Homo sapiens: one gene and its partners. The protein of the gene in region 1 interacts with the protein of each later gene in a biochemical or structural test. Each region holds a gene or a part of one and is shown on either strand. Other genes may lie near its edges. The genes, in order: PTPN21, KIF1C, BMX and ERBB4.

Region 1 (8,102 bases):
AGGCCCCGGAACCCTCTTTCTGCAGCCGCGTTTCTGGACGGACGCGCTCTAAAAGGACCGGTCCCTCGGCTCCCGAAGGGAACATTTAAAGGGACCAGCGCGTGCCCTACTGGCGGTGGAGAGGTTGGGCGGGCCCCATAGGATGCCCGCTTTGGAGCCACAGGACCTCAAAATACGCTCCTTACAACGTGTTTTATAGAGCGAAGTCTCGCTATGCCACCCAGGCTGGAGTGCAGTGGCGCCATCGTAGCTCACCGCAGCCTCGAACACCTGGGCTCAAGCGATCCTCCCGCCTCAACCTCCCGAGTAGCTGGGACCACAGGTGCGCGCCACCAAGCCGGGCTCTAACAGTTTTTAACCAGACCTGTTGATGGTTTCTGGGGCGAGCACTAGCTGGGGATTTTTATATCAGCTGGATTAGTTTTTTCCCCCTAAACGAGTCTACAAAATCCCGGACATTTCCAGGGTCCTGAGACGGTTCCCTACCTTCCTTCTGCGCAGAGATTGCCTGTTGGGGATGAATCGCTTAGCGAGACCCAGCCATAGCTGGCTACGCTGAGTTCCGGCCCGGGACCGCGCGGAGAGGCAAGATCTATTCCCGACCCTCTCATCTGGCAGACAGAACCCAGGCTTCAGGAAGAGAAGCGGCTTTCGCAGTTTCACGCTAGGACGGGCTGAGCTGGGAATCGATCCCAAATTCCACAGTCCCAGTCCTCTCCTGGGTCCTGCTCTCCTGACTGCGTCTCAGGCCCAGAGGTGATGGGGCACTTAGGGTTAGGGAATGGCAGACCTGGAGAAAAGGGTTCCGCTACTACCCTCGGCTTTGCCAAACTTAACATTTTGAAATTCCATTCCACAAATGTGTATTGCGTCTCTGGGAACAAGACAGCGTAATGAGCATCGTGAGAAATCTAAGACGAATCCCTAAACCGTCGCTGTCTTTAAAGAGATTACAACCATGCTATAATTACATACAGAGCTGTATCTCTAATAAGGACCCAACCACGGTTTTATCTGGCTAGTTTTTTTGTTTGTTTTGAGCTCTGGTTATTTCCCATAGCCAGGAAAATCAAAATATTAAAAACAAGGGATAGGGGAAGGCCAGAAGAAAAAAACAACGCTGCAACTACCTAAAGCACTGTGTTAATTAACCGCATTTGCTGAGTGCCTTCTGTAGGTAAAAGCACCATACTATGGAGGGAAACAGAAAATAAGTATTAAAAGATATGGTTTCCACTTCCAGTAGTTTTCAATGCTCTTTGCTGTTTCAGGGGTATAAACTAAATAAGTAAAGCAAGATGGAAAAAAATTAGCAAATGACAACTTTAAATAATAAGCTTTTAACTAGAAAATTGATAAACCAAGAGTAAATATTTAAGGATTATAAATATGCATACTAAACACCCTTTCATGAGATCAGATGGTGGGTTTCAATTTTACATAAAAATTATGGTAACTGGAAACCGGGCGGATTAAGTAGTGTAGATGAACAGACAAGATATTGCATATGTGTAGAGGAAAGATAAATATTTGTATTAGGTGCCATTCAAATATGGTAGTCTTTTCACTACATAGAACTATGCCTTGAAAGCAATAGATACTACACTGTATAACTTAATTATTAACTTAAGCTCTGATTAAGCAAACTCAGTAAAACTTTCAATTGTCCCTCAGACTTGAAATGTATTACTGCATCAGGGATAAAGGAAAAGTCAAAATTATCTCTTATTTTGGTAGATGAAATTGAAAAAGTTGCAGTGTGTGTGTACATGGTGCATCCCCCCAAGATCTATCCATAAGAATGGCTTGCTTTTTGCTTATTTATATAAAACCCACTATGTTAAAACAATGATTTTGTTTAATAATTTACAAATTTATCAATGATTTATACATCTTAATTTTCAGTAATATGCAGTATTTGTTGCCAAATGGTGTAATACAATTATGAATGTCTGAAGATAATAAAACCAAGATGAGTAGAAATTTAAGAGTTCTTTGGGGAGGTCTGTTTCAGGTATAAAATAATATGCAATAATATGAAAGTGATTGGGTCTGGAATTATAATTTACTAAAGTAAACATAATTTATAAATAGCTATTAAAGGAAAACTAGGATATAATTTTTTCTCTACAAAATCTTTCCGTTTTGTGGTAAGTAAACAGATACATACTAGATTCTGCTTCAGTACAAGTTTACAAAAGGCAGTCTGAACTATTTGTGAATTCATTTTAATTTTCCCTCTCTACAACCCTTTCCAAAAGTTCCTCAAATACACTTTACCTCTCAATCTTACAGCGTTTCCCCTTTCCTATTAAGGTCCTTACCACATGTAATTTTGCCAAAGTTGCTTTAAAATAAAATAAGCACTAAAAGGAGAGAGTATGTGACATTTTTAGAGTAATATCTATAGCTATAGCATTAAACCCATGTTTCTCACGGAGAAAACATCTGTGCGTAGATGCTCCAGAATAAAATGCCCTAGAAACGAAACGGACTATATTCAGAGTAAAATTACTGTCGTGTCCCAAACTTAAAAAAATAAATAAACTGTCAGCAACTATTAGGCATACAGCAGTTGTCACTTGGAGCACACGAATGTTCTGAATGTGTTTGTGAGCATACGCTATTAGTATAAGGCTTTCTCAGCAAAAAAGAAAATAGGACGAGCATGCCAAGAGCGGCCAATCTAATCAGGATTTGCAGAAATCACAAGTCGGAATTTGCAGATCCAAGAATTCTTGTTTCCAGAGTAAATACTCTACTCCAAAAACAAACCCAGGCGTTACCAAACAGTCCTTCCCTGCGCCCCTTCTCGCCAAAGTTATCTGGCGAATTTCACGTTTATATATTCTGAGAGGCACAAATATGCCTAACACATTTAAAACCCTGATCCAGAATTAACCCGCAACAATCGGCCAGGGCGTTCGGAATAGAAGTTCAAGACTCCTTTTAGAAATTACTCAAGTATATGAGAGCGAACCTGAAAAACAAGACTTTTCTCTTTGTTACGCTCCCGCTACGGGTCTGGCCGCCGCGCCCCATTCTCCGGGATTCCGGGGCCGCGGGCGCGCTCCGGGGTCCGGGCGAGTGGACACACCCCACCGCTCGGGCCAGCCGCCCGCCCCTCCCGCCGGCCGGGGACCGCGCCCTCACCTGCTCCCGCTCCCGCTCCCGCATCCTCGGGGCCGCGCGCCCCGCTCAGCGACCCGCCTCCCGGGGCCCCGCCGCGCGGCCGCCGCAGCCGCACCCGCACGCCAGCCCGGGCCGCGGCGCGCTCATGGGGCTCGCACGCCTCACTTCCTGTCTCCAAAAACCCGGCTCGCAGACCATTCCCCTGGGCAGAGTCCGGCGGTGGCGACGGCGAGGGGCGAGGCCTGGAGGTGGGACCGGCCGGCGAGGAGCGCCGCACAAAGAAGCCCCGTGGGGGCGGGGGGTGGCAGGAGGACGGACAGACCGTCGGACCGACGCGGGACGCGCGGCCGGAGCAGCGGGGCGGCCGGGCCCAGGCGTCCCTCCCCCTGAGCCGGGCGGGCGGATCCGGGGAGGCGGCGGCGGCCCGTGACCTCAGAGAGTTGGAATGCGGGCAGCCGCGCGGGGGAGGCGCGGACAGCTGCGCCCGGCCGCCGGGGAGGGGGCGCGCCGCTGCTTTTTTTAATCGTATGACCACTTATTTTAAGAGTTTCCAAATAAAGCAAGGCTTTTAATAAAATGAGTGGAGGGGGTATTATTTAGGTTCCAGATAAAGGGTTTTATTCCTGTGTTATTAGGTAGGCTGTAAAATGCTGTTATTGATGGTTATTCGTTTACTCTGGTATATTTCTGAACACTATTGGAATACATTTCTTCTTTTCCTGCTTGCTCCTAAGGTTATGCCCCATATAACTAGACACTTCCAGTACTGGGTGGGAAAGCCCCCCCACCAAAAATGGTTCATATGCCTCAAATAACCTGTCAGTCCCCAAAAGGGAGCTGTCTGCTTATGCAATATAGAGCAGAACTGTTAAGGATGGAGACTTGACAAAGTTGTCAAATCCCAGCTCCAACATTTACTAGCTGGATGACCTTGTGCAAGTTTCTTAACTTCTCTTTACCTGTTTCCTCTCCTATAAAAGAGGGATATTAATATCTTTGCACAGCAGGGGTGGGGGAAATAAATACTAAGCAATATCCAATAACTTGTGTAAAGTATATATGAAGTGTTTCGTTTAAGGTTTATTATACAGTATTCTTGTACTGCATTATTACTGTATTGCAGCACTTAAGCTGAGGAATAAAACTGTGTGACCCTACCACTATTACAATAGTGTAAGATCTTTTCTTGGCATGTGGAACACAGAACCTTTTAATTTATGTAAATTTTAATTTCAGTGATTTTGTTTTAATGCTGTTGTTTCTGGAAAGCTTTTTAAAGTATTGTTTCATGTAAATCTCATTTTCTTAAACAATTAACAAAAACTTTTGAATACTTAACTCTGCATGAGACGTGGTCCCTGCACAACACGGACTTTTGGTTTAGTGGGTGATAAACGCACCTGCACACCACACACGCAGTACAAGGCCAAAGTGGGGAGCATTGTCATAGAGGTATGAGTGCTATCCAAGAGCAAAGCCCAGCAAGGTGCATCTTGGGTCGTTTAGCTAAAGGCAAATAAGATTACCTGTGTTTCTAAGGGAAAAAAAATAGATCAATTCTGTTTGTAATTGATATTTCAACTGAACTCTATGAGGGGGTCAATTTGTGTGTGAGCAAAGAAAAGAGATCTAAAAAGAAGTCACTTTGCTGGCTTCCCAAGGTAGAAAAACTGGAATCATGTGTGACTTCTCCCATTATCATCTCCAGCCTGTCATCAAGACCTGGTATTTCCTCCTTTGAAATGTCTCATGAATTCTTTGTTTCCTTTCTGTTCCCCCTGGAACATTCTAAATCCAAACCCTCATCATTTTACATCCGGATTATTGCAACAAGGGTGGTCTCCTGGCATCTGGTTTCTCAGTTCTCTCTTATTTCCTTGCTAATACCAGGCTTCCTTCTCTTATCACTCTTAATGGACTCCCAAGGTTAAGTTCTTCTGCCTGACCTATAGGGACTTTCCAAACGGGCCTCTCTGACCACCTATATCGCTTTCTGCCCCTGTCAAGCTTTGCCCCTGGCCAGCAGCCCCTCCTGCCCTCTTTCCACTTGTCTAAGCCTTCTGCTTCTCTGCAAGTAAGACTCTGCTTCCAGGATGACTTTCTAGCCACACCATTCCACAGTGATCTCCACACTTGGCAAGAACTGTAAAAGTTGTTTCATGACGGCTTCTTTTATATCTCCTAGGATTCCTAGGACAGTACTGGGCAAAGAGTAGGCACTAAATAAAAACTTGTTAATTGAATCAGGAAGAAAATAAAAGAATTTTAAAAATAGAAAATGACCATAAAACCCAAGAGATGTTAGACAACTGAGTTGAACTTCCTCCCTCACAGTCCACAGATGTCATTTACTGACCAAGTACCTAAGCCCTATTTTCCCTCAGCTATGTTAATTTGGCAGGAACATTCATGGGAAGGCACTTGAATAACACCTTCAAAATATTAGACATAAAATTATTAGCTTGTGTTGCATATCTAAGGAAGTGAGATAATTTATATGGTGCCACCCCCAAAGATACAAAAGGGTGTAAGTAAAAAGTCCCCTTCTCACCCTGCCTGCTAGACACCCAGCTCTTCTCCTGGGAGGTAACCAGTGTTCCCTCATTCCTCTGTATCCTTACAAAGATGTTCTGCAGAGTTACAAGAAACTACATATAAGTATCTTTACCCCCTCTTGTTATCCAGAAGGTGGCATACTTACACATACTTTTACACTGGAAGTTATTTCTTACTAAAATAAATAAAATGTAAAAAGAAAGCCCAGCACATAAAATGATGAAAGACAAAAAGATGAAAGAAGGCTGGGTGCAGTAGCTTATGCCTGTAATTCCAGCACTTTGGGAAGCCTAGGAGGGCAGATCAGCTGAGGTCAGGATTTCGAGATCAGCCTAGCCAACATGAAGAAACCCCGTCTCTACTAAAAATACAAAAATTAGCTGGGCGTGGTAGAGCATGCCTGTAGTCCCAGCTACTGGGGAGGTTGAGGCATGAGAATCGCTTGAGCCCAGGAGGCACAGGTTGTGGCGAGCCAAGATCACGCCACTGCACTCCAGACTGTGTGACAGAGCAAGACTCTGTCTCAAAAAAAAAAAAAAAAAAGGAAAGGAAATTGTGGTTTGGTGGGTGCACTGACTAGTGTTTTCTTAGAAGTTCAAAAGTTAATCTGTTTTGATAGCATGGTGAATACCCACCGTATAAATTATCATCATCTGCAAAAATCCAAATTGAATGAATGCCCTGCCACGCAAAGATAATGATTCCTGTCTGGGCGCGGTGGCTCACGCCTGTAATCCCAGCACTTTGGGAGGCCGAGGCGGGTGGATCACGAGGTCAGGAGTTCGGAACCAGCCTGGCCAATATGGTGAAACCCCGTCTCTACTAAAAAAATACAAAAATTACGCCCGGCACGGTGACTCACGCCTGTAATTCCAGCACTTTGAGAGGTCAAGGTGGGCAGATCACAAGGTCAGGAGATTGAGACCATGCTGGCTAACACGGTGAAACCCCATCTCTACTAAAAATATAAAAAATTAGCCAGGCATGGTGGTGGGCACCTGTAGTCCCAGCTACTTGGGAGGCTGAGGCAAGAGAATGGCGTGAACCCGGGAGGCGGAGCTTGCAGTGAGCCGAGATCGCATAACTGCACTCCAGCCTGGGCGACAGAGCGAGACTCCGTCTCAAAAAAAAAATTAGCCGGGCAGGTGGCACACGCCTGTAGTCCCAGCTACTCAGGAGGCTGAGGCAGGAGAATCGCTTGAACCCAGTAGGCGGAGATTGCAGTGAGCCGAGATCGCACCACTGCACTCCAGCGTGGGTGATAGAGTGAGACGCTGTCTCAAAAAAAAAAAAAAAAGATGATCCCTGAGGAAGGGGACAGTGAGGGCTAGAACTAGAAATGTGTGGCCAGGCGCGGTGGCTCACGCCTGTAATCCCAGCACTTTGGGAGGCCGAGGCGGGCGGATCACGAGGTCAGGAGTTCGAGACCAGCCTGGCCAACGTGATGAAACCCTGTCTCTACTAAAAATACAAAATTTAGCCGGGTGTGGTGGAGGGCGCCTGTAGTCCCAGCTACTTGGGAGGCTGAGGCAGGAGAATCGCTTGAACCCGGGAGATGGAGGTTGCAGTGTGCCGAGATCGCGCCATTGCACTCCAGCCTGGGGGACAAGCGCCAGACTCCGTCTCAAAAAAAAAAAAAAAAAAAAATAGAAATGTGAAGTCTTCGGTCTCTGAATCTGCACCTTAAGTTCTGCCTACCACACTCAATACTGTGTCACATGCAACACCTTTTCAGTTGCAAAAGAGCAACCATTTTATGGATAGATTCCCCTGGACATCAGAGAAATGATTATCTTGGCAGTGTGTTTGTTGAAATGGAGAAGCATGTCTGCCTCAGTAGCAAGTGACTGCTGTGACTGTAATTCCCAACACTTAGGGCTTTTGATCCAAGTATGTCTATGCCATGTGATAATCACTATTGGAAAACACTTGTCCATTCAGCCCACATATATTTAGAAGCCAGGTGCTGCAAGGAGAAAGGTAAATAGATGCATACCCCTGTCCTCAAAGACTCACCATGTGAACAACAGATGAATATGTAATTGTAGTAGGTGAGGAAATTTATACATGGTTATACTTTATAGTCTGAATGGACTGGTAATGTCTCGTTAATCACTGTGATCAGCTTCTGCTTGAGTCTGGAAAAGCAGACTCAAAAGGCTGACAAAAAAAGGTTGACTGAGTACTCAAAGAAAAGCAAAGCTTTGGGCCTGGCACGGTGGCTCACACCCAGCACTTTGGGAGGTCGAGGTAGGCGGATCATGAGGTCAAGAGAGCAAGGCCATCCTGGCCAACGTGGTGAAACCCTGTCTTTACTAAAAATACAAAAATTAGCTGGGTGTGGTGGCACGCGCCTGTAGTCCCAGCCACTCGGGAGGCTGAGGCAGAAGAATCCTTTGAACCCAGGAGATGGA
Region 2 (7,373 bases), on another chromosome or scaffold:
GACTAATCCCCTGGGGGTCCTATTTCTTAACATGTCCCCTCCCCAGGACCTAAATCCTCTGTCTCTCACTGCCTTGCTCTTCCCCCAGCCCAACAACCCACCGAAGTGTGTGACCAGTAGGAGTAGTCAAAGGTGAAGCTTTTGGGGGCATCCTTGCTCTGTTTAGGATTGATGATGGCTGAGGGGCAGGAGAGGGTAAAGGAAGGAAAGTCAAGGTCAGGTATTCCCAGTCCCTGCCCATACCCCAACCAGCCCCTGGAATCCAAGCATCCCACTCCTCACCACTGTCCTGACTCTTCTCTCCCCTTTAACATTCCCCACCCCCTCCAGCCACCAAAGCTAATTTTGGCTTCCTAGGACCCGCCCCCACTGAGCTGCCTCCCTGGATTGGGCAATGGAGGGCTCCAGGCCAACATTCCCCCTCCCAGGGACTGGGAACACGGGAAAGGCCAGCCTGCCCCAGCCCCCGCCCTTACGACTAGCACCTGCTCTGTGCCCAGCATTACCCTCCTCTTAGTTTGGCCCAGCGGGACTGGCCTGTGTGGTGGGCCCGGCCTTCCCTGCCTGTGCCCAGCCAGGCCCCGGGGACTCACTCACAGGTGGTGTTGCCCTGCATGCTGACCACACACTTGGCATCCTGGCTGGTCTCACGGGCGTTAAAGGGCCGAACCCTCACTGCCACTTTCACCGAGGCACCAGCCATAGCTCCAGACACTCCTGCCCTCCTCAGCTGGAGGACAGAGAAAGGAGTGGTGGGGTCAGAACCACTGCAGGGACCCAGACATTGCCTCCCAGCTTCTTCCCGGAACCAGTCTCTTCACATCTCCCCCAGAGCCACCCAGCCTCTCAAGGACCCAGCTCTTATTCCCTTGGCTTTCCTCCCAAATGTCACTGTCTTGAGAGACTCCCAAAGGTATTTCTGCCTCTCTCCCCAGCCATATTCCAGCTTGCAGGAACCTGGGCGGTCTCCCCCAGTTACCTGGCGTCCTGGCCCCAGACCAGGGGGGCTGTATCAGTTCTGGCTGCCACCGGCCCTCGTAGGGGGAGCCCCATCCTACTCCTGGGGCCTGGCCACACCAGCTGGGGCTCTGGGAGATACCCTGATTGCGGGGGAAGAGTTGTTAGAAGGCACCTGTGGTTCCAGAGACCCGTCTGGGGTTCCCAGGTTGGAGGGCCAAGGTTACGGGGGGAATAGCAGGAAAAGTACGGACAGCTGCCCCTCTAGAGTGGCTGAATGCAATGTGAATCCAAGGGCAGGGACGGTGATATTTTTATTCCTTGTCACTCGCAAATGTACTGAACGTTCAGATAGAGGACAGAGAGAGAAAGAGGCTGGACAGAGGGCAATTCAGAGAGAGGGGCACATGGGCAGAGACGTGAGGGGGGTGGGAAGAGAGAGAGGAGGGGCAGAGAGTCACAGACACCAAGAAAATTAGAGAAATAAGACAAAAGGCAAGCCTGAGGTCATGCTATGAAGGAAAGAATGGGAGAGGAAAGGAGGAAGAGACACAGCACAGCAAACACACGGTGTTAAAGAGACAGGGTGGGGAACTCCGGCGCCAAAGCACAAACTGGGAGCCCAGAAGAGAGACCAGAGAGGAAACTGCAAATGCAAAACCTGTCCTCAAATTCCCCCACAGTGTCGGCAAGGGAGAATCTAGTTTCCACCTGAGGCCCACAACCTCCATGCACCAGGCCAGTAGTGCAGATGGGCAAAGTCCAAGGACTGTAGGTAGGGCCCAGGACTGGGATCCACAGGGCCAGCTGTGTGGGCTCTAAGCCCCTTGCCCAGCCCCCAGCACTTCCTCCTCAGGATCCGGGACAATGAGCAGGGGAGGGTGGGGTCATCCTGTAGCCATCAGACCAACCCTCAGGGCTCCACCCTTGGGGCGCCCAGAAATACCTGTGTTTGAGGGTAGAGGGTCCCTGGGGCCTCCCTAAAAGGGAGAAAGAAAAGGAAGCCGGCTGGCTGGTGCCAGCCCCAACCTGGGGCTAGTGCTATGGCGTCCACTGCCCTGGGGAAGGTGCCAGGCTGGAGCCCAGGAATGTGGGTGATCGGGTGCCCACACCCTGGGAGGAGAGGCTGAGCAGCCCACGCCCACGGACAACAGGGAGGAGGACCACGAAGGATAAGGGATGCGGAGCCCCCTCCTGTGGCCCCAGTGGACCCCAAACTCCTGTCACGCTGGGCCTCCCCTCACCAGTCTTCCTGGGCAGAGCATGGGAGGGTGAGGGGCTGGTCTGTCCCAGGACAGGAAGGGAGTAGCTGGAATCACAGAAGCTGGCTCAGGAAGAACAGCCCTGACCCCCTAGACCCTGACCAGGGGAGGGAAGGACACTGGTGGGGACAAGCGATGGTGACGCCGTTGCTGCAGCTAATGGGACAGGGATGGGGTGGCACGGCTGGGGGCCAGCGGGGTAAGGGAATAGAGGTAGGGACAGGGGTCGGCCGGTGCAGCTGTGAAGGAGCCGTGGGGTACAAGGAGGATACTGGGCGGCTGGGGTGGGGCCGACCGGCCCGAAAGGGGGTCTTGGGCCACCTGCACCTTGCCCACCCGGCGGTTCTCACACAGGTCCCCGCCCGGCCTCTCAGGGCGGCCATGCGGACCCGTCCTCCTGTCCAGCCAGCCGGCGGCCGCCCGGGCCTGGCACCTCTCTGCGCCTCCGCGGAACAAACAGCACATGATCCCGACTCTTGAGCCTAGATCGCGCCGCCGGACCCCGGCTCCCCGCCCCCCAACCCGGCACATTCCTCCGCGGGCGTCCCTTCCCTCCCCCTTCCCCAGCCCTCACCTCGGCGCGGCGGGGCTCCCGGAGCAGCTCGGCGGAGAGGGACAAGCTTTCCGGGAAGCGTGAGGCGGAAGCGGGAAGGATCTGGGGCCGGTTCGGAGCTGCCCCCGCCCCTCGCCGGGTGCCCGGGCGGCGGGCGGCGGACTCGCGCCCCGGGGGCGGCAGCAGTAGCGGCGCCAGCGGCCGGCGCCCGCCCGGGCAGCGCGAGCTGGGGCGGGAGCGAGGGGCGGGGGACGCGCGAGCGCGCGCGGAGGGGCGGGTACGCGCGGTCCCGGGAAGGAGCCGGGAGCGACCCGGGCTACTCTTGTTAAAGGGGCAACGCTCCTGGCCTGTGGGGCCCAGCGAGCGGGAACGTGGGGACCGAGCTGCGGACGCAGAAGGGCGAGCAGACGCCGCAACCCAGGAGGGTTGCAGACGCCTGAAGAACAGGGAAACGTCGGGGGCTGACCCGCGGGGGCACCCAGGCCCCGGCCCAGTTCCCGTCGCCGCCGTTGGAGGCGCGTCCAGGGGGCGGAGCCTCCTGCCGAGGCCCGCCCAGAAGGTGGCTCCGCTCAGGCCCCGCCCTCAGACGAGCACCGCCCGCCGGCTCCTCCCGCGGCTCGAATCGCCGTCTCTCTCCTCCCCGCCCCGCCGAGTTCTAGAATTCGCCGCGCAGCTGCTTCAGGTGCTGGGGCCAAATGCGGCCGGCCGTGGCGCGGCTACTCGGGCGCTCTGTCCCCGCCTGGCCCTCAAGTTCGGCCGCCCTGGACGCCGCCTGAGGCCCAAACAACCCCTTCAGGCCCGGGTGCCGCCTAAGGCCGGAGCTGCCCTCTCAGACCCGGGGCGTCCCTCAGGCCCCAGCCTGCCCTTCAGCCTGGGCCCACCACCTCAGGGCCCCTCTCGAGGGAAGCAGCCCCCAGTCGTGCCCTCGGGCGGGGCTGCCCGGAAGGTCCGGCCACGCCCGGTCCACCTGTCGAGGGTCCCCGTCGCCCTTTCAGGCGCAGGCCGCGCCCTCCGGCCCGGCGCTTCCCTCCAGCGGGGCTCCAGGCAGCCCCTCAGCCCCAGCCGGACCCTCGGGTCCTCATCCACCCTCGCAGGCGCAGGCCGTGGCTACCCCGAAGTCAACTGTGGAGGATCCTTCCTGGCTTCCTTCAGCTCCATCCTGCCCTTGGATCTAGGTCACCCGCTTGGACCCAACTATCTGAGGCCCGAATGCCCCGCAGCTCCCGCTGCTCCCTCGCGTTCTGCTGACCCCCCTCCGAGTCAGGACATCCCCTTTAGACCCCACTTTAGGCCCTTTCAGCCCAACTCCAACTAGCCCCATCTGCCGCTTCCGCACGGTATACTTCTCTCCGCTTTTGACCTCACCTGCTTTCCCAGCCCATCCCTAGTTCCCTTGGATAAATACTAGTTCACCTCTACAGTTCCAGCTGGCTGCTTCTGTCCTTCGGGAGCCTATGTGCACTCTCTCCTAACTTATCTAGTATTCTTTTTTTTTTTTTTTTTTTTTTTTTGAGACGGAGTCTTGCTCTGTTGCCCAGGCTGACCTCGGCTCACGGCAACCTCCGCCTCCTGGGTTCAAGCGATTCTCCTGCCTCAGCCTCCCGAATAGCTGGGATTACAGATGCCTGCCACCACACCCGGCTAATTTTTGTATTTTTAGTAGAGACTGGGTTTCGCTGTGTTGGCCAGGCTGGTCTCGAACTCCTGACCTCAAGTGATCCGCCCACCTCAGCCTCCCAAAGTGCTGGGATTACAGTCTTGAGCCACCGCGCCTGGCTTTTTTTTTTTTCTTCTTAGAAACAGGGTCTCACTCTGACGCCTAGGCTGGAGTGCAGTGCAGTGGTGCGATCTTACCTCACTGCAGCCTTGACCTCCCGGGCTCAGATGACACTCCCACCTCAGCCTTCCGGGTACAAGCGCACACCACCACACCTGGCTAAACTTTTTCGTATTTTGGTAAAGAGGGGGTTTCGCCATGTTGCCCAGGCTGGTCTCAAACTCCTGGGCTCGAGCAATCCACCCACTTCCGCCTCCCAAATTGCTGGGATTACAGGCGTGAGCCAGTGTGCCCAGCCTTAACTGCCCTTTCTCCCCACCCCAACTGGCCTTCAGGTCATCTTTGGCTGTCCCTATATGCAACTGACCTCCCTATCCACAGGCATTCCCAACTGCCCCCTCCTTCCCTGTCACCAGTTGACCATTATGTCCACACTTAACTTTTTTTAATTTCTTTTTTTATTTTGTTAGAGACAGAGTTTCACTCTTGTTGCACAGACTGGAGTGCAATGGCGCGATCTCAACTCACCGCAACCTCTGCCTCCCTGGTTCAAGCAATTCTCCTGCCTCAGCCTCCTGAGTAGCTGGGATTACAGGCATGTGCCACCATGCCCGGCTAATTTTTGTATTTTTTAGTAGAGACAGGGTTTCTCCATGTTGGTCAGACTGGTCTCGAACTCCCGACCTCAGGTGATCCACCCGCCTCAGCCTCCCAAAGTGCTGGGATTACAGGCGTGAGCCACCACACCCAGCCAACTTTTTTTTTTTAAATAGAGATGACGTCTCTCTGTATTGCCCAGGCTGGTCTCCAACTCCTGAGCTCAGGCAATTCTCTTGCCCCAGCCCCGCAAAGTGCTGGGATTACAGGTGTGAGCCACTGCACCCGGCCCACACAATTAACTTTCACTAACCACTCATAGTTGATTCATTGAGAACCCTCAATTCTGTCACTTCTCTTACCCCCAAATGCCTCCACCCCACCCAGTCTCCACTGTCATCATTTTTCAATTTCATTGTCCCATATTGCCAGTTGTCGCTTAACTGCCATCTGTAAATTTCACTTATTCTGCACATTTAGCTTCAGAAGATTTGCTTTCTCCTTTATCTTTTTACCACATCCACTTTTCCTGTGCTCACTATCTTCAACCTAAATGTTCAATTAACAGTCCAGCACTACAAATACCTTTTTTTTTTTTTTGAGACAGAGTCTTGCTCTGTTGCCAGTCTGGAGTGCAGTGGTGCAATTTCAGCTCACTGCAACTTCCTACTCCCTGGTTCAAGTGATTCTTCTGCCTCAGCCTCCGGAGTAGCTGGGATTACAGGCATGCGCCACCATGCCCAGCTAATTTTGTATTTTTAGTAGAGACGGGGTTTCTCCATGTTGGTCAGACTGGTCTCGAACTCCCAACCTCAGGTGATCTGCCTGCCTCGGCCTCCCAAAGGGCTGGGATTACAGGCATAAGCCACTGCGCCCAGCCGCTACAAATACCTTTTAAGCTCTCTCTTTTTTCAGCATCCATACATTCTTTTTCCATTCTCTAGATCTGCTACTGGCCTCATCCCTACAGACATTATATGAATGAATGCCTTTTTTTTTTTTTTTTTTTTTTTTGAGACAGAGTCTTGCTCTGTCCCCCAGGCTGGAGTGCAGTGGCGCGATCTCGGCTCACTGCAACCTCCGCCTCCCAGGTTCAAGCGATTCTTCTGCCTCAGCTTTCTGGGTAGCTGGGACTATAGGCGCGCGCCACCACACCCGACTAATGTTTGTATTTTTAGCAGAGATGGGGTTTCACTATATTGGCCAGGCTGGTCTTGAACTCCTGACCTCATGATCCGCCCGCCTTGGCCTCCAAAAGTACTGGGATTACAGGCGTGAGCCACCACATCCAGCCCGAATGAATGACTTCTTTTCCATTATCCTCCCAGCACCAAAAAGGAGACTAACTACCCAGCCCCGTCCAGTCATGCAGGTGCAGGATGATGGAGTCAACCTCATCCCCTTTGCCAAGTGAGTCCTCCCACTGGGTGGGGAGCATGGGGATGGGATGGAGGGGATATTGCATGCCTGGGTCCTTCCCTAAGAGGATTAGGAAATAAAGAACGGGAAATGCAATGCCTGGTCTCAGGGGATTGATGATTCATTAATTTATTCAACAAATAGTTTGAACACTACAATGTTCCAGGGACTGTATTAGGCACTGGGGATTCAGCAACTAGCAGGATAGGGGTCCTGCTCTTGTAGAGCTTACATTCTAGAGAGGGGAACACAGAATGTGCAAACAAATACAATTTCAGCTAATGATGGGTACTATTTAAAACATAAAACAGTGGGCCAGGTGTGGTGGCTCACTCCTGTAATCCCAGCACTTTGGGAGGCCGAGGCAGGCGGATCACCTGAGATCAGGAGTTCGAGACCAGCCTGGCCAACATGACAAAACCCCATCTCTACTAGAAATACAAAAATTAGCCAGGCATGGTGGTGCTCGCCTGTAATCCCAGCTACTTGGGAGGCTGAGGCATGAGAATTGCTTGAACCCAGGAGGCAGGGGTTGCAGTGAGCCAAGATTGTGCCACTGCACTCCAGCCTGGGCGACAGAACAAGACTCCATCTCAAAAAAAAAAAAAAAAAAAAAAGGCCAGGCACGGTGGCTCACACCTGTAATCCCAGCACTTTGGGAGGCCGAGGTGGGTGGATCACGAGGTCAGGAGATCAAGACCATCCTGGCTAACAAAGTGAAACTCGTGTCTACTAAAAATACAAAAAAATTAGCCGGGTGTGGTGGCGGGCGCCTGTAGTCCCAGCTACTCGGGAGGCTGAGGCAGGA
Region 3 (8,140 bases), on another chromosome or scaffold:
CAATTTGTTTTATCCCAGACACTCCTATACTTTGGAAAATTACAGCGATGATGTACCTCATAGTAGTGGTGAACACTGAGTTCTCATCAGGGACACCCTGGACTATGGACATTAATATGTTAGACATTACACGTGTCTTAGTATTGTTCTGGTCCATTTGCCTACCCAGTGCATGATTTCCTTACAGCCCACTGGAAAATGTTTAACTGCTCTATCTTTAAAAATACCTTCAGGGATGGAATGTTCTTTACTCTGCTATGTCATCTCTGCCAATATCCATATATTCTGATCATTATACAGTTCATACTTACATTGAGTAAAAATATGTTTCCCTGTTACTTTCATCTATTTCATCATGTGGCACCCCAGGAATCTCCAGAATATATACTTTTCTGTTTCTTAAGACAAATGTTTAAACGTTTGAAGATTACAATATCTTCTCCAGATCCTTCTCTAGTTTATTCAACTCTTGTTGGTAAATATACACAGCATTTGTTAAACACTTACTAGTTGCTGGGCTCTTTCCTAGCTACTTCAGTATTTTAATCTTATTTCAACTCTGTGAGAAATAGAAGTTGAGTATGTGTTTACAGTTGCACAAGTATAAGTGGTGGAACTAGGAACTCTCTGGGGGCTCCAAAGCCTGTGATCTTTTGAGCACTATGCCTCTATGAGGTGAGTTTGCAGCATCTTCCATGAGCATGCCCTCCCCTGGTTTCCCCCAATTGGGTAATTTTTTTAATGAAAACAATGTTTATGTAGAGATGAGGTCTCGCTATGTTGCCCAGGCTAGTCTTGAACTCCCAGCCTTAAGTGATCCTCCCTCCTTGGCCTCCCAAAGTGCTGGGATTACAGTCATGAACCACTGTGCCTGGCCTGGTAATATTTTTTCCAAATGGGAAGTATGGGTTGTTAATCAACTGGATTATTGTATTTCATTTTTGGCCACAGGTTCCTAATACTAGCACTGGGTAGTCAGGCCATCTGAAAGACAATCCATCTACCTTTGGATCAGAAATGTAAGATTTTATGCTATAAGAAAAGTAGGGCATGACTTAGATTAGGCCACTTCCAAAAGGTACTACCAGCATACACTACATACCATACCATTGTTTAAAATACTTCAGGGTAAAATGAAAACTCCTTAGCATGGTCACCTCTCCAGGCTATCTCTTTCACTGTCACATGGGCTTCTTTATTCATAGGGACTACTTAGTGCTCTCTAAATGTGTCATACTGTTTCACTCATCAGTGCCTTGACACCTGCTGCTTCCTTTGTACCACTGTCCTTCTCATATTTGCTGGGTTAAATTTTACTTGTCCTTCTCAACTTGAGTGTCACCTCCAATAGAATATCTCTCTAGCCTCTTGGAGTGAGGAATGAAACTTCCACATCCTGGGACTCCATGGATGCATTCTGCTGACCTCCACCTTAACTCTCACCCTCACTGCTTTGTAATGGTCTGTGTATTAGTCTATTTTGCCACTTCCCTGTAAATGCCTTGGGGTAGGGGCAGTGTTTTGTTCCCCATAGTATGCCTACTACTGTGTACCACATCGGAGATACTCAGCAATGTTTGTTAAAAGAGATGATCAGACCTGAGGCAGGTCAGGTCACTGCGACTTACGCTCCTGTCTTGCTTCCCTTCCCTTCCCTCCAGGGAAGGCAGATTGGTGGACAGAATTTTAGCAAAATGCCCAACTCCCATGTGGGAATATTCCAAGCCTTGTTTAGATTATTTTGAAATATCATTATTTTTCCTAGATATATTGAGTTCACGATAGAAAAATTGAAGGAAGAACTATCCACCCAATGCAATGTCGTTCTTCCCTTTACCTGAAATGGGTACTGTCTCTCTACAGGCGTCTGCTCCTCGAGATTTACTTTCTCCACACATCTGATTTTCTTAATTTCAATGGATCCTTTTCTGCTGCCCCTTTTCTGAATTAAAAAACAAAATGTAAGATACTTCCTGCAATACATCATGGTGCACAAGGAAAGGCATAAAGCCCAAGTTATGCCTGAGAGGGAGATTGGGGTGGGGGGTGGGCAATGGAGAGTCACTTCCTATTACCCCGTAATAGTCAAAATCCAATGACAACATAATCTATTCCTTGAGTCTGGACACAAACACATATATTCCAGTGGTTAATAATCTTGTTTGATTATCTTGAAATGTGTTTCAAATCACCTACCATGTGGTTAATATACTCAGGAAAATCAAGATTTAACTTCTGCAAAGCATCTTCATTTTGGCTCAGTCTTATGACAGTATTTCAGTGTTTTTACTATAGTAGAATTCTCAACTGTACAGGAATAGTCTTATTTCTAGCATTGTTTTAAGGCACTATTGCCATTTAAGGCTGGGTAATTCTTTGTTGTGAGGACTGTCCTGTGCACTGCAGGATGGTTAGCTGCATTCTTGGCCTCTACTCACTAGATGTCTTTAACACTTACTGTTCCTATCCCCCAGTTGGAACAACCCAAAATATCTCCAGTCTTTTCCCAATGTCACCTGGGGAGCAAAAATGCCCTCAGTTGAGAACCACTGTTCTAAAGTTATAATTTGCCTTAGTAAAGTTAACTAATGTTTTAAAATCCTTTATCTTGAATTCATTATACTTTCATTAAGAAAAGGTCATGTGATAAGTGGATAGAAGAGGATCTTCACAGTGTAAGTTAAGAAACCTGATATTCTTTCATTATGATCAAGTACTTTGTGGAGACTTAGGAAAAATAATAAATAGTATAAAAATAATGGAACACATGATGTCTCACCATTTTGTCATATTCATAGTAGGAAAGGTTTGTTTTGGTCAAAACAAAAAGCCGTTCTTTGTAATTATTTGGTGACATTTTCTTCTTTTGCTGTGATCTTTTGAGAAGAAGTTCTTCTAGAATAGATTTTGTATCCATATTATCATCCTAAACAAAATAAATAATTAAAATGAGTATTTGCAGCATCTAGGTAAGTTCTCTTTAACCTTCATATCTTTTCCTCAACGATTTCCTATTAAGGGATAATATAAATGCTGATTTTAATAAATGAGACTGATGTAGGATTATAGAATAAATTACACAATAGCTACAGTTTTTCTGCTGCCTTTGCTTTGGGTTTTATAAATATGTTGATTTTTAAAAAGCACTTTATACTTTTGACTCCTCCCACTGTGGATAATAAATTCATCATCTTTGCCCCATTCTCCAGACCACCTTATCAAAATGCTCCTTACTTTTTAAACATTCTATATGTGTTGGTTGAATTGAATTGGATATAATAAAACTTCAGAAAATTTAACTCCAGACAGCTCACAATTTATGAAGTAACGGCCTGTAATTTGACCAAATTACCCAAACCACTATGAGACACTGACATTATTGTAAATAACACCTGCAGCCCCTGATCATGGCCAGATCTTTAACATAAATTACACAGGTATAATTTTCAATATCTATGAGAATTTAAAATCAAAGTAAATGCCTAAGATAAGATAAAATGAGGAAAATGTATGAGGGTGCACTAACAGATGCTATCAAAAGAGATTTAAAAGAACTGAAAAAATGAGTACATTTACAAAGTAAAAAGACTCTTCCTTTTTATCCCAAAATCATGTAAAACATTAAAACTTAAGGTATTTCTGAAAAATAAATGCATTAATTTTCTAATTCTACTAAGACAGTTACTTCAACCCTCAGTCTAATATCAGGTCTGATCATGAAAAGTAGCAATGTTGAGCAGTAGGCCAGAGAAACAAACTTTCTTATGTTCTTCTTTGCTTTGTGAAATTGCATCGTTATTTGAATTCACATGCCCAATAGTTAAAATCTTTCTTTATTGATAATCTGAAGGCTTTACTCACCTTAGACTCGCTAGAGCCGAAGTATACATGTGGGTCCTTAACTTTGACTCTCAAGCTCTAAGCAAAAAGTTACTGCTTTGAGGCACCATCACTCATATTCCCTCTGGCTATGCCAGGGTCATGCATTAAAAAGAAGATATTTGCATCCCACTCATCAGTCTTGATCAGGAAGCACCCACACAGGCATTGCTCTGTCTGCATGGAGGCGGGCGCCAAGCGAACCCATCCAATCACTAGAGGGCACTTCTCACTGGCCTGGGAGTATGATGGACCCACTATGGCAGAAGAGTGAAATGAAAGGGAGACTAAGAAATACAGCCTGGCATTGAATTAACCATGGTTGGCTCCAGCCAGCTTTCCTCCTAACATAGACCACACAACTCTCAAAGTGGAATTAAGAAAACCAGCTTTTATTATTTACTATGTAGAACAAAAGATTATTTATTAATTCCTAAAATGTCCTCCAAGGGCATTATTTGATTTTTAGACAGAAGTAGTGGAAATCTTATCCATTCAATATAATAAAGTCTTGGTTACTTTTTCCCTGGGATATTGTTTTAGCTATTTAAAAAGGATAATTCTTTCACAAAAGTATAATGGGTTTCTTCTGAGTACAATGGGTACTATTTGCCATGGTCACTGGTTTCTTTGCCCAGTGATCAAAGACAGGGCAGAGATCAGGGTAGAGTAGAGCCTATGGAGGTAAGAGTAGCATGCCTTCCTTTTATCTTTGCTTCCATTGCAAACTCTGCATATCCACCTGCCCAGATAAGCTTATTTTCTACATCCAAAGTCTGTGGCCGGAAGAGAATTTGCTCGGAGACTTATGGAAACAATGAGGGTCTACTTTTTTTGAGTGAAAGCCTCCTTTGGGGAGGCAATATCACATTGGACATGGTTGTAGGGTACTTTTGCCTTTTATATTTCCGTATTTTACTAATGAAGCAGAAGGAGAAAACTGTGAAAACTCTTGTCAATTTTTTATATCCACAGCTGAAACATCATTCCTCAAAGCAGAGTGCTAATTAAATAGATCTGATTAGTTGAATAGAAAATTTACTTTTTAATTTTTTTAGATGCTGAATTGATTTGTGACATTAACAACACTGTATTAAAAATGTAAAAATCCCAATGTCCAAGGTGCTATTCAGTCTTTCCCAGTACTATGTGCTGGTATACATATTTTTCTGTCTATAGAACTTTCACACCTAGGCAGGGCACAGTGTCTCATGCCTGTAACCCCAGCATATTGCACATTAGGAGGCTGAGGAGGGAGAATCGCTTGAGGTCAGAAGTTTGAGACCAGCCTGGGAAACATAGTGAGATCCTGTCTCTAGAAAATTTTTTTGACAAATTAGCAGACATGGTGGCATGCACCTGTAGTCCCAGCTACTAGGGAGGCTGAGGCAGGAGGATCACGCCACTGCACTCCAGCCTGGGCGATAGAGTGAGACCCTGTCTTCCAAAAAAAATTAATAATAATAAAGAAAGAAGAAGAAAAGAAAAATAAAACTTTTATGTGCATCACACTAAAGGTGAGAATTTTTGGAATTTTATATAAAAAATTAATAAGATGAGTCACAGAGACCACTGACAAATTCACAAAGTTGCCTCTGTGTATTGAAAGGAAGAACATTGAGTAAAAAGGAAGGTATTGAGCCCTCAAGCACCTTCTCCAGTAAACCTCCAAGGGTTTACAAGCGTTGTTGCATCTGATGAAATATAACTTGTGAAATTTCAACATAATTGTTCATTTCAAAATCCTGCCCTTTATACATTTTTTGCTTTCATTTTAAGATTCATATGCAATATATGTTTATTCTATAAAGCCAAGAGATACAGACAGGGAAAAGAAAAACACAGCACATCTCTAGATGTTTTTCTTTTCAAATATTTATGTACATATGCTTATTTTCTCAAAGATGGGTTCACATACTGTGCACTTGAGTCCGTAATATGTTGTTCTCGTGTAACAAACACCTGAAGCCACACGTTTTTGAGGTACCCATCCAAGAGGAACAGTCCTTCAAAGCTCCACTCCCTAAGCTGGGCTACTGAGGCTTCCTAACAGTCTTGAAGGACCCCACCTTGATGACTCAAGCTTTTTTCATTTCCAGATCAGTTTCTTCTAAGATAAACCATGTGGTTTCTGCTCAGGCTTGGGCTTGCCTTTCTCCTTCTATTTACTTCTGTCCCTTCCTTATACTTCTCCTTTCTCCTCTACATGGCCTAAATTCTAATTTGAAAACATTTCTGTGGTCTCTCTTGATATAGAAGGATAGTTGCTGATGATTAATTTTTAGAAATGCAATATCTTCCCCCCTCGTATTGTGACAATAAATAAACAGGGCTTACTGTTAAGTCAAATGCCTGTCCAACAACTAGCAAACCCTGCTCTTCTTATGCTTATTTAGGGAAAATTCAGTTGGGAAGGTGAAACAAAAAACCTTTTATAGTAAAATGAGATCCTAAACCCAGTCAGTATTAACAAGAAATCTATTTCCATAGAAGAGCTAGTGGGATCTGGGTGGACTCTCATATTACCACCCACATAGAATAGACCTATCAATTTGCTTACCAAATAGCCCAGGCTGCCTATTTCCATAAACAGATGAAACTAGAAAGTGATTAAGGCACAGAGGAGACACAAAAACCTGGCAGAAATCAATATAGTATTTCCTATAAGGAAGCCAGCAGCCATTCGTTAACCTCTTACATACATAAAAGGTGTGTGTTGAATTAACATGACTTATAATCACTATAGTTTTTTAGGATTTATAAGGAAATGATGTCATGAGAGTAAGAAGTTCAAGTCGGCAGTTCTATTTGGCATGCTTGATTTTGAGCCTACAGTGTGTCCAACATTGAGTGACTGGTTCCAGAAATAAAGATCAGCTGTCCGTGGCCCTGAGTGACAATGAACAAGTTTGAGAGATGGGCTGCATAACTAATTAATATGAAAGATTGCTGTGGGGTGGCAGACTCGGAAGGCATGGAGGAGGTTACAGAACTGTCATTTGTAAACTGTGTCACCCTGGCCAAGCCCCTTCCCTGCACTAACCTTCAGTTTTCTGATCTGTAAATTGAGATAGGTAACAACTCTCTTACTTTACGGGACTTAAATGAGAAACCTTATGGTGAAAGTATTTGGCACATTGTGGGTACCAACTATGTTTTAAAAAAGAAAAGATGGGGAAAAAAATGTAGGTGCTAGAGTAGAGTCTATTCACTTTGCTATGAAAGGTCCAAGGAAGGAAAAGTTGTTTTTTCCTTAAGGTAGCCAAGTAAGGTATTTTAGAAGGGAGCACATTGAAATTAGACTTTGAAGGATGAGAGTGATTTTATGATAATGATCCTAGCCAATGCTTAAGGAGGGCTCACTATGTGCCAGGCTGTTTAGAGTTTACTGGTCACAACTGCTCTATGGGGTAGCTCATGACACCTCCACCTTATGGGGTAGGCCAGAACACCCCCACCCTATGGGATATTTTGTGATACTCCCAGCCCATGGGATAGGTTGTGACACATTCACCCTATAGAGTAAGTTGTAACATCATTCCCTGCTTATAGCTTATGGAGCTGCAATAGATAAATAAATTGCCCAGGTCACACTGCTAGTGGGTGGAGCTAGATTTGAATCCCGGCAGTCTAACTCCACATCCCATATTCGTGACCACGCTACTAATGCTAGAGAAGGACATGCCTGCTGTGTGACCCTCCTAAACCAGAGACTGCTCTAACCTAAATACAGGAAGGCAGTCATAGGATGTCAAATCTTATAAGAAACCTAGAAGTCATTTTACAGATGTAACACTGAGCCCCAGCAGCCTAAGTGACTTAGCCAGTACTGTTAACCAGTGACCTAAGAGGCATGGCCCTGGGAGCCAGCTTCAGGTGTCATACCTGTACACCATCCACTCCATGATGGCAGTAAACAGAGTAGGAGATATCTGTGTGTTCAGCCAAACATACTACAGCTTTGCTAAGGGACATAGTTTGGTGAAACTACCCATAAATCTGAGTCTTAACAGACCAGTGCAAGAGACATTTTATTGGAAATATCAGAAAGATGTTACCTATAATCTTTCGATAGGAATCTCCTGCTGAAAGGCAGTGTTAAATAGCAAAATTTGAAACCACATTCTGAAAATAGGTAAGAACATACAACCTCAAAAGTTGGAATAAATTCTCAGTGGTACAGAAGGGGAGCAGGAAACAGGATACCAAGGGAGACAGGGTTATCTAGTTAAGTGGCCATTGGATAGTTCCCTCAACCAGG
Region 4 (8,140 bases), on another chromosome or scaffold:
TTGTGGTGCAGATGCTTTGTGGTTCTGGATCTATCCTAGATCAGAGGCCATCTTTCCTCACCTGTTTACCACTTTCTTTAGGCAATCATTTAACTGCAAAATTTTTCCATACCTGCCCAAAATAGGTATAATCTACAAAGTTGGGTGATTTAAAAAATATACTCCGTGTAATTTTAATACTAATTTGTCTCAGATTTACATAATTGATTCTGCAAATTTCAATTGCTACAATTGGCCTCTGGAATCTGATATCCCCCCAAGCACTTTGAAGACTTTAACTGACATTTTAAAATTCTACCCTACTGGACTAAATAAGTTATTCTCTGGAAGGAATGAAACTTTTTTTCTCCCTCTTATACATGCTGAAATATGTTTTCCCAGGGGGGACAAAAATAAAACAAAAAACACTCAAACAACTGAAGTCAATTATATACTACAGAAATCATTCAAAAGAATTATAAAGTGGTGCTATTATAAAGCATTTGGGTCATTTTGGATTATTCCTACATGCATCTCTAGGTATTACCCAACATGTAGAAGTCTTGTGTTCTTAGGAGGAAAGAGACATTCACTAAATACATTTCTGTTACCTTAACAGTTAAAAGTTTGTTTTAACTATTCATTTTTTCCTTCTCCAAAATGAGTGATTCTGCTTTCTATAGCCCAGTAGAAACCATATGCATATTGTAAATCAGAAAAAAAAAATCAAGGTATAGTATCCAAAAAGAGGGCTGTGATGACTCGATGCAGATTTATTTAGAAAGGGAGGCTTATATTCAATTTTTCATAAGTACTGATATGAGATCCCTTTTCCTAGAGACTTCTCTGAATGGATAGGAGAGCCCTGAGCTATTAGATTGTGGCCCCTGAATCACTCTGTGTCTTTACCCCTGAAAAGTTTGAGGGTGAACTTCACTAGAAGGAATCTCACAAACCCTTCTCCTGCTCTACCATACTTTTTCAGCTCGCCTCACTTCTTATAGCTTAGAAAAAAACCAACTCCAATGTCTCCAATATTCTTGGCCAAGGACCACCATCTGCTTTTGGTTTAATGGTGAAGTTAGACTCTAGATAGGCTAATTAGTCAGTGATGCAATATTCTCCTAGACCAGTTTATGTTTGAATAATATTATTGAAATTATCCTGTTTGTCAACATCAACAATTTGAAGGATGTTTAACTTATATCCCAAATGAGTTTAAAGGAGATATCTTACAGTACAACTGATTATATGACAGCTATTCACAAAAGAGACTATGCAATCTGATTGTTGGAACGCATAGAAAAATTAAAATGTCATTTTAATTAAATCTCCTAGATCATAGAATTTTGAAGTTGAGGATGATATTCCATTTATCTGAGTGTTCCCCACAAAACATGGTGCTTTTAGTAGACACAGTTAGATAAAGGAGGTTTGGATGGATGGATGGATGGATTTACTTGTTCAGAATAGGAAGAAACACAAATTTCTTTGGATTTTTTTCTCTAAACTTTCTCTGCCTTAATAGATATTTTTACTCTAATTAATTAATCTTATACTATTGATTCTAATTTGGTCCCAATATTTTAACATTAGAAATATTTTTTAAAAATCTAAATGACTTGGGGTAGAATTTTCAGAAAAGGGCGACTTATATCTAAGTTTCCTAATTATTGATGTGAGGCCCCCTTTACTTGGAGACTCATCTCTGTCATTTGTTCTCATCCTTCATCTCATCAGGTATTCTTTCAAAATGATACATAATAATGATGGTTCTAGTACTGGATGCAGTATATGAAGAAAGGGAATTATATAAAGTATCAAAAGATTAGTGTGTTGGATAATAAAATAATTGCATGAGAAGATGTTTCACATTTATTTACAACTTTTGACCCAAGGACCTATCCCTAAGCTTTGAATGTTTGTGTTTTTCTTTTTATTATACCAATTTATGTGCAAAGAGTTACCTTCTACTTCATATAAATAGTCTCATACTAGAAATTCCATGGAATTCAAGCCAATCCTTACTCGCATTCCTTCTTACGAAGTATACGAACTGAACAAATTTCCTTGCGTAGCAAAGGTGACATATGAAGATAATGTGCTGGCCTCTCATCATAGTCCCTGGATACCGTTGCAAGGTTCCTAATTTGCTTGGTTTGGCATTTCCACAGTCTTTATCTTAGCTCTTTTTTTAAAAATGTACTTAAATTAGTTAATTTGCTGGTTGCTTCCATATTGCTTGATTCAAAATCCAAAATGGAGTTCAGAAAAAGAACAAATAAAATTACAGCTTAAGTGCAAACTACATTTCTGAGTATCTGCCAGGTAGACATACCCAATCCAGTGTGTTTCTTCCAGTTCAATGGATTCCCTCATTGGGCCACCCCTGAAAGTATCAGTAGTTTTCCTGAACCACAGAGAACTGTCTCTTAGTTTCCCTTCTACTCTTCAGACAACCAACGGCCTATCAAGTAGTGTCATTTATGGAGAAAAAAAAATGTTGAAAAATGTAAAGGATGAGGGTGAAGATAATTTGATAGCATGAAAAATATTAGCCTCCCTTTCTTATTTTAAAGATTGTATACTTAAAGTAGTGGCCATTTCACTATATTAAAATATTTCTTGCTTAAATTCTGTGAAGAAGCTTTGATGTAAACATCTTTGCAATTAGAAATTAAAGCCAAAAATAGGGGAGCAAATATAAAGGAATCGGTCAGAGCAAAACAAAATGAAAAAAACCAAAAAGTGTTGAAAACATAATTACTAGTTATAACTTTAATGGAGATTTTTAAATTATGAAAGTTGAGTTGGCCATTCTTACTTGCTAGGACAGAAACTGCTGGGGAAAGAAACTGGATTCTCAATTTCAGACACCATCATATGTTATAGAAAATGTTATTCTTTTGTTCTAATGGAAACTTTATTATGATTTCCAGGGATGCTAAATATGCACACATCAGTTCCTGCAGATAGGAACAGATAGCATGGGTGTTTCAACCATCTGCTTTAAAAAAAAAAAAAAAAAAGAAGAGGAAGAAAGAAACAAAGAAAGAAAAAGAAAAAGAAAAAAAGTGACAGCTAGTTTGATAGTAGGCAGCATTGCCTTACATTTTCTGGTCCTTCTCTAGCTGTTTCATTCTCCTGACCAACCCATGCAGAGAAATGAAGAAACATTGTGGTTCCTCCTATCTTTCTCTTTCAGTCTTTCCCTCTAATGTTCAAGTTAGGTAAGCACATAACTATCATTGCATCTCTGTATCTTCCACTGGGAAGTGTCAAAACTACTGGCCTTGGGGTAGAAGGAAGACCACCAGAGAAAGAGAGGGGGGTGGGGAAATTGGAGCAGGTGTGTCTCTCCACCTAAAAAACCACAACTGAGCTTACACCACAGTATTCCGGTGTCTGTAAGGTGGAGGCGGCAGCACAGTGCCTGGCTTCAGGGAGAACTCAGAGAGGTATTCAGGATTCTCTGCCACAATAGGCCGGATCCGCCCATTCTGTTTATAAAAATATTTTGTGCTGTACTCCTGCAGGTAGTCTGGGTGCTGAAGGGTGCTCCGAGGTGGCAGGCTGTGGTTCCAGTAGTCAGGGTTGTCAAACGCTTTCTTGGCCTTCTCTGGCATTGACAGTATGTTGTTCTTCAGGTACTCAGCTTTTCCCAAGGTGTTGGCAAAGGTGTTGAGGTACAGTGGCTCATTCACATACTCATCCTCGGCCTTGGGTGGACCATTGGATGCATTGTGATATTCGGGATTATCCAATGCTTGAAGGTCTCCATTTTTTCTCCGAGAAACAAAAGGGTTCTCCTCCACTGGATTCAGGTATTCTAAAGGAATAAAAAAATATCAGCTAACCTCTAGTTTCTGGAAAATATTAATCAGACCAAGGTTATACATAATGGTTAGCTTCTTTGTCTAGAACAAAAAAACCCACAGATTTGTTTTCATGATTTCTCACAACAAGTATTTGTGGATCACCATTGTCTTATGAAAAAAAGAGTAAGTGGGTCAAAAATGTTTATAATAAAACAAGAAGCCAACGAGGCCAGAATCAGAATTTCTATCTCCTAAATTTTTCTTTCTTTCTAATTGCATTTGTCTCTTCTGCATATGGGGCTGGTTGTTTCAATGTTTTTGTTTTCTAAAAGTTATTTATATTAGGAAATAAGACTACCTATTAGGATTAAATAGTCTTTAAATATACAGACAACTTAACTTCTATAAAGGATATTGAAAAAACAAGAATCTATAGCTGAGTTCCATGCCAAGATGAATAGATGGAGTGAAGAAATCATGTTTTTTAGTCTCTATGGTTTGCTATGATTGCCTATACTGGTAACAAGGATTTAATTGGAGATGCTTCTGAAAAAGGTTTTACACATGGAAAAGAAAGCATCAAAGGAAAAAAATTCAACTAAAAAAGCAAATCTAACAGATAGCTAACATGCCTCTAGTTGACCTGCTTGACATTACATATACTTCTACTTAATAGTAAAGTATAATTATAATATTTCCATTGACCAATCATAATCACAAAGTAGCAAACTATCAGCTTGAATTATATAAAATAAAATAAATTTTGTATATTGAAACCAGTCAATTAGTGCCTATTTTGTACGGATCAATCTAATAAATCCATCTAGTATAGGTATTGGCCTAAAAGGTGCTAATAATTATCACCATTCTCCTGAAGCTTAATTCCACATCTATGTCTATAATATAGACTGCACATAGACATAAACACGCATGTATTGTAAGTCCTCTGACAGTCCTCTCTTTTACTATATACACAAAGCCCTAAGCTATTCCTATTTTGAATTCAAGGCATGAAGAGGGCACAATTCTTTGTTGAGAGGCCATTCTGAAACAAACTTTCTGTCTTTTATCCTTAGCCCAATAAGTAGAGAGAAAAATCCTATTAAGTGAGGATTATTTTTCTCCAAATATATATATACAGAATAGGTAAGTATTTAGCATCATTTATTCAACTTAAAGGGCAGTAATGAATATCCCACTATCATATATAGGCCTTTACAAGACACTATCATTTCATCCTCCCAATTCTGTGAAAAAGAAGTACAAGACTTATTTTTCCAGCTTTGTAGACAGAAAAATGAGATTAAATGATGTGTGCAGGATACAATTAGTGTTGGGATAGAATTCAGGTCTTCTAACTCCTCTTGCATAATCTTCTTATTCTACTGCACTGTTTTTTATTATTGCCCCTGCAGGAGTTGGGTGAACTTTATGCTTAGTAACAAGTTTTAATTTGACAAGTGTATGAAAACATTTATAAGGAATGCAGAATTTGGTCTCTCTTACCAGATTCCTTAAACTTCTTAATTGAAAGAATAGGAATGTCTACACTAAAATTCTGTACTCTCTGAGTACGAGGTTAGACTATAGCAACCTTTTATAGAAACGGAGCTTAGTGTTCAGAGATAAAATCTGAGAATACAGTGTGACTCTATAGGGTGACTTGCTTTTCTCTTCACCTTACCTTTCCTCAATGCAATCTACTTATATATTGTCCTCATGCAAACTTATATAGCTGTCCAATAACTTTACGGTTGGAGTGAAAATCTCCCCAGAAAAGATTCTTCTTTGGGGTGAATCTGCCAAGTCTTCACAACGTCTACATTTGTGTCATTACTAGGCTACTATGAGCATCCAAACTCTTCATTACATTTTTATATGTATAGAAGTTTTAGATATGTAAAAATTTTATCTAGACAGATATATTTTAAAAGGTTATTTACAATTAGAGATCTCTAAATTTTACTTTAAAGGAGAGAACATAACCATATACCAGGCCCTTCTCAGAGTCTTAAAATGTAGTTTACTGTTGACACTAAAGACTGCGAGAGACATGATCATCATTTTTTAATAACAATCATCTATCTTCTCTGTTGTGATACTGTTAGCATAGAAGAAGAAAGGCTGTTTTGTTGCAAAATTGAAGCATTATTTGATTTGGGTGCTTAACATTTCTACTACTAACTTTACAAAATTATTGTTATGCTTTGTAAAACCACAGATTATTATTTTCAAATCTTGGTGGTATGCTTGTAAGTATATACAGGGTCAAACCTTTAATTTTTGAAAAACGTCATATAAGAACATAATATTTTCCTATAATAAACTAGGTTGTTTAAATGTCATCATTTAAATGAGTCAAACAAATCTTTTATTAGTGCCATCAAAAGCATCAGGCACTTTTGCCAACAATACCAGTCTTTCTGATCTCCGCAATTAAGTCCAATAAAGCTATGGTCCTGACACTTTGTAGTATGCTACTTCATTCAAATATTTCAACAAAATATGTTTAGAATAGTGCTTCTCAAGACTGATTGCTGTATGCAGATAGCCTGGGGATCTTGTTAAAATCCAGATTCCTATTCAGACGGGGCCTGCCTGAGATTCTGATTTATATAAATAATAATAAATAATGTGGATGCTGCTGATTCAGGGACCATACTACAAGTAGCAGTAGCCTAGGCCTTTACTGGATCACAAATGTTGTGCTGGTCAGCTATCTGGCAATTTCTATTCTGTACTTTGTTTATCTTGATGGAAGTGAACTTCGAATGGCGATCGTTTCTGAATAATCAGTTCATACCTTGTTTGGGTTTGTCTCGCATAGGAGTCATGTAACCTTCCTCATCCAGCTCTCCTCGTGGGCTCCGTTCTGGGGCAAACACGGTGGGGTCAGCACTGTACCTCTGGGTGCTACTGTCCTCTTGGACATGGGGTGCCACTGGCTTGCGTAGGGTGCCATTACAGCAGGAGTCATCAAAAATCTCAGCAGTAGCACCCTGTGCCACAGGAGCTTCTGGAATTGTGCTAGTTGGGGCTCTGTAGGGCACAGACACTCCTTGTTCAGCAGCAAAACCTCCATCTCGGTATACAAACTGGTTCTGTTAATAAGAGAAACATATGTGGAGAGAAGGCGTTGTTAGAAATAGTTTAAAAATGAATGTTAATAGCCACAAGGATATCAAAGCCAGTCTTTCAGAGAATAGTCATAGTATTTACTGGTTTTTTTTCCCCTAGTGGCTAATGGAGTTACAAACTATAAACACCTAAAATTTCCACTTTTCTTAAAAGATAAATCATCAGAAAATAATTTTGAAATACACATTCTAGTTTTATTAACCAACTGAAACATATTCTAATAAAATGTATTTGATGCCCTTTTCCCACAAGTGCCTATATTTAATACAAATTTCAAAGTGAATTTTTATGATAAATGCAAGTGTCATTAATTATAGACAGTTGTCATTAAGAATAGAAGTACATGGATATATTTTGAATAATCCTATGTCTTTATTCCCTTCGAAAATTCTGTGGTTATTATGAATTTGAGGCTCTAGTACCTAACTAGAGGATCATCACTATAATTCTGACTTTTTAGTACATGACCAATAATCAGGGAAGTAAAGATCACCTCCACATCCAGAAGCATAATTTATGTGCCCAGGTAAATCCTTCAGATAAAAATTGAAAGCTACTGTTGATGCATGATATCTCAATTTCGGATTATCAGCTGAGATAAAAACACATCTACAAAGGCAGCTACACGATGTACACCAAATTCTTAACTCACTGTTGGCAAAGGCAAAATGAGGAAATTATGCAGAGACGAGAGAGGAAACATGGTAAGCAAAGACCGAAAATCCTAAAAGATGAAGGTTGATTGTGAAATACTTACTCCTGACATGGGGGTGTAGGCAGGAGGAGGGCTGTGTCCAATTTCACTCTAATAGGAAAGAAAAATGGAATGATGGATATAATAAGAGGCAATATGAATGAAAAAATTAAAAAAAGAAACGAAAAAGAAAAGCCACATGGGTCGTATGAACCAAAGGGGAAAAAGTGCACAACAGTGAAGCTTCCTAAGCAGCACAATTGTATGCATTCTGACCATAAGCAAGCTTATTTATATGTTTTGAGGAAAATAAATATTTTAATTCAATCCCTGAAAAGGAAAATTGTACAGAAAAAGCAAAATTTTTCAATGGATTAGAAAAGTAAATAATAAACATTCTTCTGATTAACCCTAGAGGAAAGGAAAAGTAGTAAATGAACTATAGCTGTAAATGGGAAACAGTTTCCTTCTTTACATGTCAAAAGATTGAAATGGCCATATTGTCTGCTGT

The links.
Region 2: the proteins of PTPN21 (region 1) and KIF1C form a complex in vitro, tested with the Homo sapiens proteins (one study listed by BioGRID).
Region 3: the proteins of PTPN21 (region 1) and BMX form a complex in vitro, tested with the Homo sapiens proteins (one study listed by BioGRID).
Region 4: of the proteins of PTPN21 (region 1) and ERBB4, one has a biochemical effect on the other in vitro, tested with the Homo sapiens proteins (one study listed by BioGRID).

The regions. Positions count from the first base shown.
Region 1 is NC_000014.9:88,551,498-88,559,599, forward strand, and holds the start of PTPN21 (tyrosine-protein phosphatase non-receptor type 21), read right to left. Parts: upstream 3,199-8,102; 5' UTR 3,154-3,198; intron 56-3,153; exon of another isoform or gene 1-55. Other genes in the region: proline-rich protein 2-like, read right to left, coding at 3,199-3,563, 5,266-5,293.
Region 2 is NC_000017.11:4,993,577-5,000,949, reverse strand, and holds the start of KIF1C (kinesin-like protein KIF1C), read right to left. Parts: upstream 3,001-7,373; 5' UTR 2,794-3,000; intron 1,938-2,793; exon of another isoform or gene 1,904-1,937; intron 1,101-1,903; 5' UTR 980-1,100; intron 731-979; 5' UTR 704-730; coding exon 598-703; intron 179-597; coding exon 102-178; intron 1-101. Other genes in the region: protein INCA1, read left to right, coding at 6,513-6,556. UniProt on the Homo sapiens protein: Motor required for the retrograde transport of Golgi vesicles to the endoplasmic reticulum. Has a microtubule plus end-directed motility.
Region 3 is NC_000023.11:15,503,131-15,511,270, reverse strand, and holds part of BMX (cytoplasmic tyrosine-protein kinase BMX), read right to left. Parts: intron 3,964-8,140; exon of another isoform or gene 3,862-3,963; intron 2,927-3,861; 5' UTR 2,918-2,926; coding exon 2,780-2,917; intron 1,943-2,779; coding exon 1,838-1,942; intron 1-1,837. UniProt on the Homo sapiens protein: Non-receptor tyrosine kinase that plays central but diverse modulatory roles in various signaling processes involved in the regulation of actin reorganization, cell migration, cell proliferation and survival, cell adhesion, and apoptosis.
Region 4 is NC_000002.12:211,380,253-211,388,392, forward strand, and holds part of ERBB4 (receptor tyrosine-protein kinase erbB-4 isoform JM-a/CYT-1 precursor), read right to left. Parts: intron 7,741-8,140; coding exon 7,693-7,740; intron 6,899-7,692; coding exon 6,601-6,898; intron 3,809-6,600; coding exon 3,363-3,808; 3' UTR 1-3,362. UniProt on the Homo sapiens protein: Tyrosine-protein kinase that plays an essential role as cell surface receptor for neuregulins and EGF family members and regulates development of the heart, the central nervous system and the mammary gland, gene transcription, cell proliferation, differentiation, migration and apoptosis.